2 separate regions of the Homo sapiens genome follow, and region 2 is linked to region 1. The links come from fine-mapping of genetic effects on gene expression. Tissue or cell type: whole blood. Region 1 holds a variant in brackets; the other region holds the start of a gene. All regions are shown on one strand. Distances are between the middles of the regions.

What was found. PIP is the estimated chance that this variant, and not a neighbour inherited with it, causes the effect.
Region 2: it holds the start of RASSF4, and the variant in region 1 is fine-mapped to the expression of RASSF4 in whole blood (INTERVAL, PIP 0.92).

Annotation. Positions count from the first base shown.
Region 1 is chr10:44,979,113-44,986,231 of GRCh38, forward strand. It overlaps RASSF4 (Ras association domain family member 4), which reads left to right. Exons shown (of 11, transcript NM_032023.4): 4 at 3,409-3,551; 5 at 4,910-5,001; 6 at 5,701-5,858. Among named protein-coding and RNA genes, the nearest start is that of DEPP1, 3.9 kb to the left of the region's middle. RefSeq lists enhancers at 593-1,296, 1,297-1,998, 1,447-1,516, 4,790-5,290. The variant T/C (reference allele first, on the strand shown) is at 2,520.
Region 2 is chr10:44,956,216-44,963,129 of GRCh38, forward strand. It overlaps RASSF4 (Ras association domain family member 4), which reads left to right and starts at 3,587. Exons shown (of 11, transcript NM_032023.4): 1 at 3,587-3,651. It overlaps TMEM72-AS1 (TMEM72 antisense RNA 1), which reads right to left and starts at 3,474. Exons shown (of 8, transcript NR_033842.1): 1 at 3,377-3,474. RefSeq lists an enhancer at 3,266-3,560 and a silencer at 3,338-3,557.

The DNA.
Region 1 (7,119 bases):
CTCTGTGTTACACCACCCCATCATGACTCCTGTGAAGTTGGGCCAGGTCCTTGGCAACTTTGATGAAAAATCAGCAGCACAGGACCCCAGTCTGGAGGCAGCTGAGGCTGGGTCCCTAGGCCTGCTCCTAGGAGAGACACACCCTGCTCGCAAGGGACCAAGGGCGGTCTGCGGGGTCTGACCCTGGTCTTCTTACACCCCAGATGGGGTGCTTTCGGAGGATTTGTTTGTTTACTTGTTCACCAGATATGAGGTGCTAGTGTGTGCTGTGAATGCACTAAGCACAGCAAACGTAGCAGCGGACAAAGGTGTGGCCCCCTGGAGCTCATATTCTAGTAAGGGAGGAGATCAAGCCAGAGATGAATGGGTGCTGTGATTCAGGCAACAGCAAGAACTGCCTGAAGGAAAGCAGCGCAGTGGCATGCTGTGGTGGGCTGCCGCCACAGGTACAGTGGTCAGGGGTGTCTTCCCTAAGAGCAGATATTGGAGCAGAAACCTGAAAAAAATGGGAAAATGCACATTCCAGGTGGCAGGGGCAGCACGTGCAAAGCCCCTGTGGTGAGGGCGCGCCGGACAGACATGCTCAGGGCACAGCAAGGGGCCTGCAGACTGGCCCATGTAGGAGGGGGTCAGTGGACCTTGGGGTGGATGCTGTGTTTCCCTCTAGGAGGGAGGGAAAGACTGCAGGGTTTGAACAAGGGCACTGCAGTCTGGCTTCTGCTTCAAAGGATCGCTGCAGCTGCTGGGACTGGGCTGGGGCTGGGGCTGGGGGGCTGCCAAGGAGCACCTGGGCAACATTAGAAAGCCACTGCATCTGTCCAGGAGTGACCATGCCAGCAAAGGAGGCTGCCAAGGATGAGAGAGGCAGCCCCTGGGAAGCTCCTGCACTCCCCAGACAGGCCACAGATCCTCTGCCCCAGCCACAGCCCCACCTGGAACACGCCTGCCTGTGCTGCAGGTGGGGGAGAAAGAGGAGTCTTGAGAGTTAGCCCAAGCCTGAGCTCTGAGTACTGGGCAGACCCCAGACTCCCTAGGCAAGCAAGAGGGACCGGCAGTCCCAAGTTCTTGAATTCTAGGTGGGAACTCCATGTGCACAAAGGCATCGGGGCAGGGAGTGCCTGAGACAGTGACCAGGATTTCAGTGGCACATGGCACTTCTCACCTTGCCCAAGCTCTTATATCTTTTGTAGACCCTTTGTCTAGTTCGCTGGCTCTTCTTTGAATTTATTAGCAATGAGCAGATTAGTCAAGAGACCAAAAGAGGGAGGGAGGCGGAGAATTCGCTGCTGGCTGACGGGGCTTTCCCTCCATTCAGATGCGGCCAAGCTGGGGGAGGGTGAACAGTGGGCGGCTATGCTGGGGGCACACACATCACCTGTGTAGGCATGTCTGGCCTGAGTCATGGAGAGCCAGCCTGTCCCCAGTACAGCCAAGCCCCCGACCTTGTCCAGGCAGGTCCTGAGGTCAGGGCCACCTGCTCAGCTTTCCTCCCTGTCCCCCTTCACTCGTCTTCCAGGGTGCAGTGCACAAGCACCTCCTCCAAGAAGCTCCATTGCATCTCCTTCTGCGTCCAAGCCCGAGCCCCTCGTGGCCAGGGCTGTGTCTGCTCCATCTTCCTCTGCCTGGCGTCCAGGGTGGGGCTGGAGGGCAGTGGGTCTCCATGAGTGAGCCATCCCCACAAGCTCTCTCCACTGAGAGGCACCCGAGACCAAGAGGCAAGAACAGAACCCCCCATAGACCTTTGAACTCCATAGATCCATGCTGGCCTCTCCTTCATAGGAAGCTCAGTGACACATCTGTGCTTGTAGAGCACCAGTGAGTATCAAAAACAGCTCTGGTTTCTGCTTGTTTGTTTTCCTTTTTAGCAGATAGTGCAAGGTCATATCTGGAAGCTGTGTGTATATTTGATAACCTTTGGATACACTATTTTCTCTGTGGATGGCAGGATGTTTGAACCTAGAAACCCCATTTCTAAGTTACCATGAAATCCACATTGTGCAGGGTCTTCCTGAGTGCTGCCAGGGATACAAAGAAGTTTCCATGGCGTCCCTGTTCTCACAGGGCTTTTAGTGCCAACGAGGAGAGAGAAATGGGATTTGTGAATCTAAAATATGGGTCAGAAATACTGCATGATTCCCTTATATAAGGAATCTAAAATAGGCTCATAGAGGCAGAGAGTGAAAATGGTGGTTGCAGGGACTGGGGCAGGGGAGGAGGAAGTGGAGAGTTGCTGTGCAGCTGATATAATGTTTCAGCTATGCAAGATGAGTAAGTCCTGGATATGGGCTGGACAACGTTGTGCCTACAGTGAACAATACAGTATTGTGCACTGAACAGTTTGTTTAGAGGGTAGTTCTTATGTTAAATGTCCTTATCACAATAAAACATAAATAATAAAATTAAATGTTGGTTGAGATGGCAATGAGAGAATGATATTCAAAGTTAATTGTGGGAAGACTAGTGTCAGAGCACATTAGGAGTGTGTAGTTTCGAGACTGCGGCTCTGGGTAGAGGGCAGC[T/C]GAGGTTGCTGGCAAGTATTCTGGCAAATGACTCAGCTTGGCCAGGCTTACACACAGAGTGACCGGGATTGGCACAGAGGCCTGGGGTGGTCTCGCAGAGACAGAGGCCTGGAATAGGTCAGAGGCACTGAATCAAGGGCCCAAGGGGTGCCAACCAGCACTACTAGCAAGGTGCGTGCAGAGGACTCTGTTGATTAGGGCCCCAGGTTGGCAGCAGGAGAGAAGCCATGTCACCTGCAGACCTAGGGAAACCGAGGGAGGTTGGGGACATGGGATGAAGGCTGTTGTAGAAATTCTGGTATGGGATATAGGGCTAGTGATGTCTAAGCAGTGGTGAGAAAAGCAAGACCCTTTGTCAGCCCTGGCAAGTGGACGCTGCTGCTGTTGGAAGGCACCGGGAGAAGGGTGAGGCTGAGACACAGCTAGGACAGAGAGTGCCCACTTCTCCTCTGGTGGGTGTGGGACCCTGCCGGGCCTGGTGGCCATAGGACCTGGTGGCGCAGGACCCCCTCCCAGGTGCAGTGTGGGCAGAGAGGTCCCCTGCTTGGCATGAGCAGACAGGCTGTGCGTCCCTGGAACCACTTCTTCACCGCGGTGTGGACGTGCCTGCCGGCCAGCAGCTGGCTTCCTGTGGGACACCTGACTCAGCCACTGTGTTCTGCGCTGTGCCCCTGGCCAGGCATGAGCTGAGCACATCTCAGGCTCCCTCCCACAGGGCCTGGTCACACGCCCCAGGGCACGTAGTGGCTGATGGTCCTTCCTGAGGGGATGGGGCCACTCAGGAGGAGGGATGTGCAAGGCCTGAGTGTTCAGAGCATCCCATCCCTAGGGGGCACAGGGAAGGTAGGCAGCTGCTCTGGGGGAAGGGCTGATGTGTGGACCCCCACAGGAAGAAGGGACTCTGATCATCGAGGGGCTCCTCAACATTGCCTGGGGGCTGAGGCGGCCCATCCGGCTGCAGATGCAGGATGACCGGGAGCAGGTGCACCTCCCCTCCACCTCATGGATGCCCAGACGGCCTAGCTGCCCTCTGTGAGTACCCGGTGGCTTCTGTGACACCTGCTCAGCCTGAGCTCCCGGGTTGGGGATATCCCGAGCCTCAGGGTGGGAGCCCTGTTCCCTTATGGGACACTGGCACAGGAGGGTGACCCAGCCTCATCCCCATGCCCTGTGACTGCCTCAGTCCACAGCCTCGCCCAGGGTGGCCTCTCCCTCCTTCCTGGAGAACATTCCAGGCTCCCATGACCTCTATTTCTGTTTCTCAAACCTTCCTGCAAGCCACCTTGCTGGCAAGAAGGGACGACTACAGCCAGGGGGGCTCCCAACACCTATGCAAGCCGAACATGTCTCGCCATCTCTTGTTCTATCTTTAAAATTCACACGAATTTAGCCTCTTACTACTCTGTTTTCATTTTAATGTCAAAATTTTAAAAATAAATTTATCAGAATTTCACATTACATTTGTTTAATATCAGAATAATGTTTCTGTCAGGAGGAAATGGTCTCCTGCCTGCCTTACCATTCAATGCACATTTATCTCCTCCTCGGCCCACTCCCAAAAGACGCAGTTAGTAGCTGGGCCTTGCCTGCTTCTGCAGTAGTAACTCCTGTAGAGGGCACACATTCAGAGCTTTGCCCCCTTCAGATTTCATATGAAACCCATGCTGTGACAGCACCCACCACCCTGACAGCCCCAGCACATACCTAGGTGTCCCCAGTCACTCAGCGAATTCTGAGGCACACAGAATTAGAGCATAAAGTCAGACTCCTTAGGAAGGCTGCAAGTGTGACTCACATGTGCCCCTCTTCGAGGTAAAGCACTCACAGACAGCAGTCGCGGCTGTGCCCGTGTATTCTCCAGGATCCCATCTGTCTTCTCTTCCCCAGGTCCCCTGGGCTACAGGGCTGTGCCCCATCATACCCACTCCTTCTCCAGCCCAGCACTAGCTACCCTGGCCTGGGGCTCATCCTGCCAAGAGGCCTGGAGGTTGGGCCCTTCTAGGTGGCCCCTGCCTGACACCCCACTAGGCCTTCGGGAAGCCCAGCGAGCCTGTTTGGCACACAGCTGCTGGCCTGGCTAAGCCTGGTGTCTAGGAATGCGCAGGCCCTGACTATGTTCATGTGTCCGTGTGTCTGTGCGATGCAGCCCAGCACAAGCCCTCAGGTCTGCAGGGCCAGGCTCACTCTCCGTCCAGCAGATGCTGGGGGGAGGCCTCTACTTTTCTTTTATTGTTTCAGACTGACTCTCTTGGTTTGAAATCCAGGCCTCACCTCAGCCTGCCTTGCTTCCCGCCTGTGTCCTACCCCAGGGGCTGCTGGTCTCTTCTCCTTGGCCTGAGCTCCCTTTCTCTGCCGGCAGCCATCTCAGCCCTGCAGTTGTCTGTTTTCAGAAAGGAGCCATCGCCCCAGAACGGGAACATCACAGCCCAGGGGCCAAGCATTCAGCCAGTGCACAAGGCTGAGAGTTCCACAGACAGCTCGGGTAAGCGGAGCCCGCAAGCTGCCCAGACCCCTGCCTCATCCGGGGTAGGAGCAGAGGGGCTTGGCTCACAACCACAATCTCCGAAGGACAGCTTTGTGCCCCAGCCAACGAGGGGCTTCACCTGCTGGACCCCTACCCAGGTGCCTGCCTGTGAGGTGCTCTGCCCTCATTCTCGCTCCTTTTTATGGAAAAGTGAGCAGAGGCTTGGGAGGTGACAGTGACAGTGTGGGGGTGGCCTGAGTCCCCCGCCCTGTGTGTGCTATGGGAAACAGGAGCATCCACAGAAGGCACTGCGCTCTCCTGGCCCCTCACCTCCCTCTGCGACCTCGTCCTCACCCTCTGTACCTGCTCACTCATCCTTTTTATTCCCCTTCCTTTAGCCCTCAGTGAAGGGCCTGTTTCAGAGCAGGGGCTCAGAAGACAGGGCTGGGGCCACCAAAGACCTCCATGGGCACCCTAAGACAGAGACCAAGAGGGGTATGGCCATGTGACATTGTGACCCAGGTTACCCTGTCTGGGTCTCACCTTCCTATCTGCAAGCTGGGAATATCCAGCCTCCAGTCCAGGAATGGCCCTCACGTCCCCATCTGCCCCAGTGCACGTGACCACAGGGCTCTAGGGTGCCAGATCTCCCGACAGCAGGCAGTTGCTCTGTCAGCATCACCCACCCTGCCATTCTCTCACCCATTTCTCATGCAGGGCCCCTGGAGGAGGCAGAGGAGGCCCCCCAGCTGATGCGGACCAAGAGCGACGCCAGTTGCATGAGCCAGAGGAGGCCCAAGTGCCGCGCCCCCGGTGAGGCCCAGCGCATCCGGCGACACCGGTTCTCTATCAACGGCCACTTCTACAATCATAAGGTGATGCCCCAGCCTGGCCTCTCCCCTGGGCGCATGGGGAGCCAGGCCTGAGCACAGGCACAGCAAGCACCATGACCTGTGTGGGGGCTGCTGGCATTCCTGTGCCCTCAGGAGGAAAAACCAGGTTGCATCCACATAACAGCCCCGTTTATGACCTAAGCATTTTCCAGCACATGCTCACTGTCAGTGCATCCTCACAAGTCACACAGAATTCTGGCAAGTAAGCTGGGGATGCCCTGGGCAGACAGTAACGCTGACCGTGTCTTCAATGAGGGCGCTTTCTAGGAGGCTTCCCCCCGAACTCGATTGGTTGATCCCTGGGAACACTGTGTATCCAGCCATCACTCTCACCGAATAATTAAGCAGGGGTGTGCCCAGGGCACATGTGTCTGTGCCCCAGAGAACCTGGACGACCCCAGATTCCCAGCACACAGCCTTTTGTCCAAGGATGCATTGTACTGACCTCAGGAAAAGCTTTCTTTCCCCAAATTACATCATTCTATAAACAAACTGAACTGTAGCAGGAGAAGTTGATTGTTACTGTAAATAGAATGATTGGCTGTCTGGGCAAGGCCCTGGATGGAGCGTCTTGTGACAGGCCATATCTTTCCCTCAGCACTGGGAAATGCAAGCCGAGATTTCCAGTTGAAGCAGCTGCCCTTCTTGATAGAGGATGACTTATGGCAGGGAGGGGGCTCAGGAGGAGGGTCTCAGGGTCCGATCTGAAGGAGCAGGTGTCCCAGGTTAGGCTATCCAGGGGCCATTCAAGCCACACTTAGGGTGCCCTGGACTTTGGAATGTCTACTTTGGAATTCTGCTGGGCAAGCTGAAGGGACCCTGCTTTAATCTCAGGATCTCCCTTCCACCCCCTGCTAGGCTTGTGGTGAGTGAATGAATGACAATAGGGTTGCCTTTGCTAAATCTGGAAAAATCCAGGACTATTCCAAAGTAGAGTCTCCTGAGAGAGTAAAGGGGACCCAGGATTGAAGTTAGGCAGAGATTAACAAAGGTGTAGATTAGCCCAAGGACACATGACATGACTTGAGTATTCTTTAAATCTTGTTCCAAAAGGGGTTTAGTGTGTAATGTGTTGGGTACCCATTGTTAGCATTCAAATAAATGTTGATATGCTAGTGTAAGGAATTATTCAAAAATTTTCCAAAATATGTGCGTGGGTTTAGGTATTTTCCAGTTCTATGTTCCTTACCAAAAAAAGGGTGGGGGCAGGGATGTTTTGCTCCATGATTCAAAGTACTGAATG
Region 2 (6,914 bases), 23 kb before region 1:
AAGGAAACATAGTGTCTCTTCCTCTAGGAGCTCATGATAAAGACTGGAATATACAGCATGCCAGAGTGGTATGCGTGGGTCAGGGACGGGCATTTTACAGAGGGCCCAGGGACGACCTGAAAAAGGAGGTGATTTGTGATTAAAGACCTGAAGCAGGGGAAGGAGGGAGCGCTGTGGACATCTGGGGAAAGAGCCCTCCAAGGGAAGGAATGACCCTGACAGGAACAGGCTGGGTGTGTGGGAGAAACAGTGTGATCAGAGCAGGGAGAAGGAGAGGCAGTAGGAGGAGATGAGGTCAGAGAGACAATTAGGGGACAAGATCATCTAGGGAAGGGGTTGGCACACTATAGCCCTGCCATCCATTTTTTAAAATAGTTTTATGAGAACCACAACCATGTCCTTTGGTTTACATATTGTCTATGGCTACTTTCAAACTACCCCAGTAGTGGTGAGTAGTTGTGACACGGACCATTTAGCCCACAAAGCCTAAAATATTTACTATCCAGCCCTGTACAGAAAAGGTTTACCAACCTCTGCCTTGAAGAAATAGGGGCTAATTTTTCTCCATGGTAGGGAGTCTGGAGTAGGCAGTGCAGGGTTGGTGCAGAAGCTCCATGATGTTAAGAAGGATCCAGACACCTTTGATCTTTATGCTCTGCCAGCCTCAGCATGCGGACATGTTGCTTTATGATCTCAACATGGCTGCCAGTGCTCCAGACATTACACATCATGTCCTCATTTGAGACAGGCAGGCAGGAGAGACATCTGTTCTTTCTACCAGAAAAGCAAAAGTTATCTTCACCATCCCTCAGATCTCTCCTCCCCCAGGACACCTTCCCCCATCTCTGCGTCCAGAAGTAGGTCGTATGGCCACTTCTAGCTTCACTGAAAAAAAGCTATGAAAAGGATTGTCAAGACTTAGACAGCTGTTTTGTTTTTTTTAACTGTAACCCACAGTAAGAAGCACACATAACTGAAACATAAACAATGCAAACAAAAAGTTCCACAAAACACAACTTATATTTACTATTTGTGCTGTACACTGGTATTTTCCCTTGCATTTTTGAAGTACTAGTCACATCATCAACTAAATTAATTTCATGACCCACTATTGGGTTGTAAGTAGAGTATGAAAAATACAAGTGGGCATGAGCCATAACTAGGGGCTGGCATGTTGCTGCTACAGACAAGTGGGTATTTCTCTCTCCTTTCCTTCCCTCCCTCCCTCTCTCTTTCCTCTCTTCCCCATTCCCTCTTTCCTCCCTCCCTCCTTCCTTCCCTCCTTTCCTTCCTTCCTTCCCTCCTTTCCTTCTTTCCTTCCTTCCTTCCGTCCTTCCTTCCTTCCTCCCTCCCTCTTTCCCTTTCTTCCTTCCTTCCTTCCTTTTTGTCCTTTTCCTTCTTTCCTATCTTTCTTTTTTCCAAAGAAGGAAATGGACATTGGCTGGCAACCAACAGTATCTGTAGCCTCCACCATAAGTGAGCTGGAGACCACACCCAGTTCTACTGAACCCTGAAAGAAAAGGTGACCCCTCCTTCTGAGGGGTCTGACAATGGACCCTCCCCTTCTGAGGGGAGGACGCTGACAATGGACACCTGTGTCTGATGTAAAATGCAAGCACTCACAGCCATAAAAGAGAATAAAATCGTGTCCTTTGCAGCAGGATGGATGTGGCTGGATGCCATTATCCTAAGCGAACTAATGCAGAAATAGAAAAGCAAACACCACATGTTCTCGCTTACAAGCAAAAGAGCTAAATATCGGGTTCACCTAGACATAAAGATAAAAACAATAGACACTGGGGACTTCAAAAGTGGGAGGGAGACAGCGGGGCGAGGGGTGAAAAACTTCCTATTGGGTACTATGCTCACCATCTGGGTGACAGGATCAATCCCAAACCTCAGTACCACACAATGTACAATTGTAACAAACCCGCACGTGTATCCCCTAAATTTAAAATAAAAATGGAAATTTTAAAAAATGCAAGCAGTAACACCAACTGCCCAGGAGTGCTGGGGGAATTGCATGGGATCCCCAATGTAAAGCACTAGCATAGTGTCTGAGCCCACAATGGGTGCACAGGACACATGGGGTTGCTGTCCCAAACCCAGTCCTCACTCAGAGCCAGTCATGGCCCTGTGAACAGCATTAATTAGGTCAGAGAGAATGATTCACACTCGAGTTCTGGAGAGCCCAGGGAAACTGTTATGTCACCCTGGTGCTATGTTTACTTCTCCTATCAGGAGTGATTAAATTCTTAGGATCTCATGCTCAGAGGTTGACAGTTATATTGAATTTTACCCACTTTTAAAAAACCTTTGGAAGCACCCGATTATTTGTCTCAGCTTTGATGAGGGCTGTGGAAGAGCAAATGTGTCATGACAAGTCACCAACCACAGGGAGCCTCAGAGCTGTCAAAGGATGGGCCATTCTCCAAAAATTCAAGCAAACGCAGAAACGGGAGGGCCCCTGGACTGGGTATCTTCAGTCCTGTCACTTTTTGCAGGTGGGGGTTCCAACATAAGTCATACAGCAGCCATACAAGCATTAGCACAGCCCCTCTAAGTCGAAGTTCAGGGACCCATGAGACTCAAATCCCAGGCTGATTTTGGTGCATATGGCCACCTGCACTTTCTAGAAGATCCATATCAGATTCTAAAATGGCCATGAGACCCTAAAAATATTAGGAAACGCACACTGAATGAAACTAAAATGATTTATGTTAGGGGTGGGAGAGAACAGGTCCAGAGGTCAGAGCTGGGAATCGTGAGGTAAAGCAGAAATTGCAAATGTTTTCCATCAACCCCATCCCCCACCTTGACACCCCCACACCCCAGAAACACTGAACTGTTCCCAGTTCCCCAAATGGCTTGTGGTTTTCTGTCCTCTCTGCCTCCGTGCTGGCAAATATTCGTCCAGGAGGCAGTGACTGGGAGAGAAAGACTAACTTCTTATTCACCAGATCGGATTTCTTAAACAATAAGGAGTTCTAAGAGGCCATGCCAAGCAAACGGCCAGACTGTACAAAGGTGCCCCTTGAGCAATAAATAGCAAATGCTCTGGGCTTTACTGATAAGCCTCCCCAGACTCCAAGCCCCACCAGGCATGCAGACAAGTGCCTGCAGTGATTGCAGCGCCTGCGCAGCGGCCCTTGTTGGAAGTCCAGGAGTCCGCGCTACCCCGCAAAGTCCCTGGCCGCTGCCCGCACACCGAACCTCTCGGGGCTGAGTCGGGCTGCTTTCTCCTCGCGTCCCGGGGCGCCCTCGGGAACTCGGGAGCGCGCGGCGAGCTGAACAATGGCCTGGGGACACCTGGCAGGTCGCAGGCCCCAAATCTTCCCCGCCGCCCCTAGGCCACCGCCCTGCACCCGGAACCTACCGGCGTTCCCAGAGCGGGGCGGACGGGGCGGTGCCATTGGCCGGTGCGGAGTGAGGGGCGTGCTCGGGGCGGGACGGAGAGACCGGGGCGGCACCTTTGGCCGTGCCGGGCGAGAGGCGGGGAGCGGGGCGGGGCGAGGGGCGAGGGGCGGGGCGAGGGGCGGGCCTGGCCCCGAGCAGCTGAAGCCTGGGGTCAGCAGGCGCTGCGGGCGCAGCTCCGGTGCAAGCGAGGACACGACACATGCAGTGGCTTCTGGACTGCGCGATGACTGGACGGTGAGTGATGAACGAGCAGGAGAGTGCTTGGGCGTCCATGGAGCATCCCCTCCGACCCAGGACTGCCACCAGGCAGGGACGCTGAAGCCTGGGCACTTGTGCCCTTCGGCCGCAGCGCGCAGGGTCCCTCCCCCGCCAGCCTGGCGCATTGCGGGCCTCGGGCTCATTGCTGAGAGGGGGCACTGCGCCTGGCACCTCTGTTAAGCAATTTAGGGGCTACAACCTGAGCAAGACAGATGAGCCCGGCCACTGGCTACACCTTTTTTGTTCACCTTGTCCTTAACCAGTTTCCTAGAAGCACTGATCCTAGAGTTGGGGAGAGAGCCTAGAGGCCTCTGGCACAACTCTGATTTCACTGATGGAAATCGAACGCCAAGATAATAGCAGCAGGGGGGGTCTGTCTCACAATCGCTGTCTGTAGAGGGCTCGCCTTGCTCTGGGCCAAGTGCTTTAACACGATATGCCTCTTACTCCTCACAGCAAGTGAGAGTCCTACTTTCGTTATCCCCTTTTCAGATGTGAAAACTGAGGCTTAAAGAGTTATAAAATTGTCCACCTTTACCGGATGAGTTGGTGATGGAGCCAGGATTTGAACCCAGGGCTTGTTGTGCCCCTGAGTCTCTTGCTCTTCACCCTTAGTCTCCGAAGGTCAGCCTGCCTGCTGCCCTGCTCTTCTGGGCTCCTGACTCCGGTCCCATCCTGCACTTCCCACTTCCAAAACATGCCTCAGTGTTTTCATTAACCTGGCACGGCGGAGGGAGGGAGGCCTCCTCTCACACCAGAATCAGTGCCCAGGCCAGGGCCAGCACTTTCTTAAAACACAGTAAGGACAGCTTCAGGAGCCCCATTTCACATAGGAATTAAATAAGGTCGCACAGCAAATAAGGGCTGGGCTTCTGGAATTTGAACCCAAGCAGGTTAGACTCCAAAGCTATGCTTTGCACTCACAGAGGAGCCCCTCGCTGGCTTTGCTGTAGTTTAACTGCCCACAGTACTAAGGTGTCAATCAGGATTTGTTGCCAGAAACCATTTTTTTTTAAGTTAGAAGTGAATTGGTGAAGTAACAGGTAAATGTAGACCATCCTGCCTTCTGTTCCTCTGTGTGGTTCCTTAGCTACTTCTGCCAGGACAGCAGGTTAGGGGAGAAGACAGGAAGGGAGAGGGTCAGAGGAGAAAGAGGAAGGGAGGGAAGAGGAGAGATGAAACTCATTAAACTTAGGTTAAAAAAATGCTGGCCGGAAATTGTCATGGGCTGTTTCAGCACTTTGTCAGTGTATGTGAAGGCTGTTGTCATTAGTTCTAGCCATAATTCTCTCAGTGTGTAGTGCTGGTGATTTGACAACAAAAAGGTTGATGCTACAGATTAAAGTGTCTGTCTGAAACTCAGGAGATTGGGTTGTATTTCCACCATGAAGCTCCAGTGGGTAGCCTGGAGGTCGAGAACAGAATCAAGGTCCAGGGTCGCCCTGGGTCAGGACCAAGTGGACCATGACAGATAACAAAGAACATGAACGAAACTTGGGTGTGTGTCAGAGTTCAGATTCTGGACGTGCAAAGCCTCAAAGGGGAGACCTAACTAGGGGATCTGCCAGAAAGCCCTCTGCCCTGGGCCCCTGGGGTCTGGGGCCTGGTTTCAGGTGTCAGCTCAGACTCTCTCCTCATTCATGGCCACTCCTGCAGGCAGGCCTCACATTCCCATCTCTGGGGCTCCACAGTCTCTCCAGAGCCCCCAACTCCCAGTGTCAATAAGAATAGTAATGGGAGCCTCTTTTCATTATGGGTGAGCCCAACACAAGGCCCATCTTACAGGTCTCCTCATTCGTCTTCACAGAAGTCATCGAGGATTATAGTTATTTAATTGATGAGGAGCCCAAGGTTCAGAGAGGGAACTGGACTTGCTTAAGGTAACAGAGCCAGGCAGTCACAGAGCAGAGCTTTAAACCCAGAGCCTTGCAAAGGCTAGGTGGTTATTCTCTCACAGAGTATGTTTGGGGAAATTGTTTTAAAATAAAGAAAATCAAATAAGAAGTGGCTGCACTTCCTAAAGCTTCAACAGTTTTCTTATTTTTGTAAAAGAGAAACTTGTAGTTCCCGGGGTCTCCTTTTCTGGCTGTCCCACCTTCTGCCCTAGGATATACTGTTGAGGAAGAGGCCCGGAACCCCCTCCCTTTGCCCTGCCTGACCTTGGGAAGCAGGGGTGGGGTGTCATTGAGCCCCATAGCTGCAGTGCTGGGAAGAGCCCTGAAGACTCTCTATCAGCTGCCACAACAGCTCTGGCTAAACTGATGCCCAAGAGACGGCGCAACACGCTAGGATCACAGGCCAAGTTAATGCCACAGCAAAACTCACATGCAAGGCTCTACAACGTTCCTCTGCCTCCTCTTTCTTGCTGTGACAGGTTTCAGCAGAGATTCTAAACCTAAGATCTGGGGATCTGGGAGTACATGGACAAGAGCTGTCTCATCTCCCTGCAGTGATATGCAAATTGTGTGTGTGTTTGCACGTGGATGCAGATTGCAACAACATGCACATACATGCATTTTCTGGGGAGAGTGCACTAAGCTTTCAAGAGACTCCAAAGGACTCTATGACCCAAAAGATTCTGGGACCCTTTTGTCTCACAGGGCCCTTATGTCCCCAGCAGTGACATGTGGCACACAGGCCTGGGGCAGTGGACAGCACAGGTGAGGGCAGCCGTAGAGAGCCTCCAGAGCAGCCCTGCAGCAGCAGGCACCCAGAGGGGTCTGCCCCTCTGCATTGCACTCCCAGCCCCAGGCAATCGGGATATTGGACAGTGCCCATTTTGAGCACGTTTGGCCCGAAAACCATAGCTAAGAAGATCTTTGTTTCTGTGGATCTTCTCTTCCATAGGCTAGAGGTGAGCCTGGTTGGTGGGGAAGTTGAGGAGTGGTTCAGGGGGTTCCAGGAGCAGAGAATGTATGTTTAAGGTGTAAGGGGGGAGCAGGAGGACTGGAAATGGTTTTCTTGTCCCAAATTGCTTTGCCTTGAAACAAGGGCAGAAGCCAGAAGTCTTGCCCACTGGGAAGGCTGGTCTGCGATCTACATGGCTGCTCAGGGCCAGGCTCTCAGAGGAAGGGGAGCTGTATCAGGGAGGCCTGGATGCTGGACTGGACTCAGAGAGACCTGTCAGTGAGAGGCCAGAACCGCAGCGGGGAGTAAAGGTGAGCTGGGCCTGTGTGGTCAGTCCAGGGCAAGGCGGGAGTGGAGGTGGAGGGGAGCTCTGTGCCCGCCTCTCCTGGACT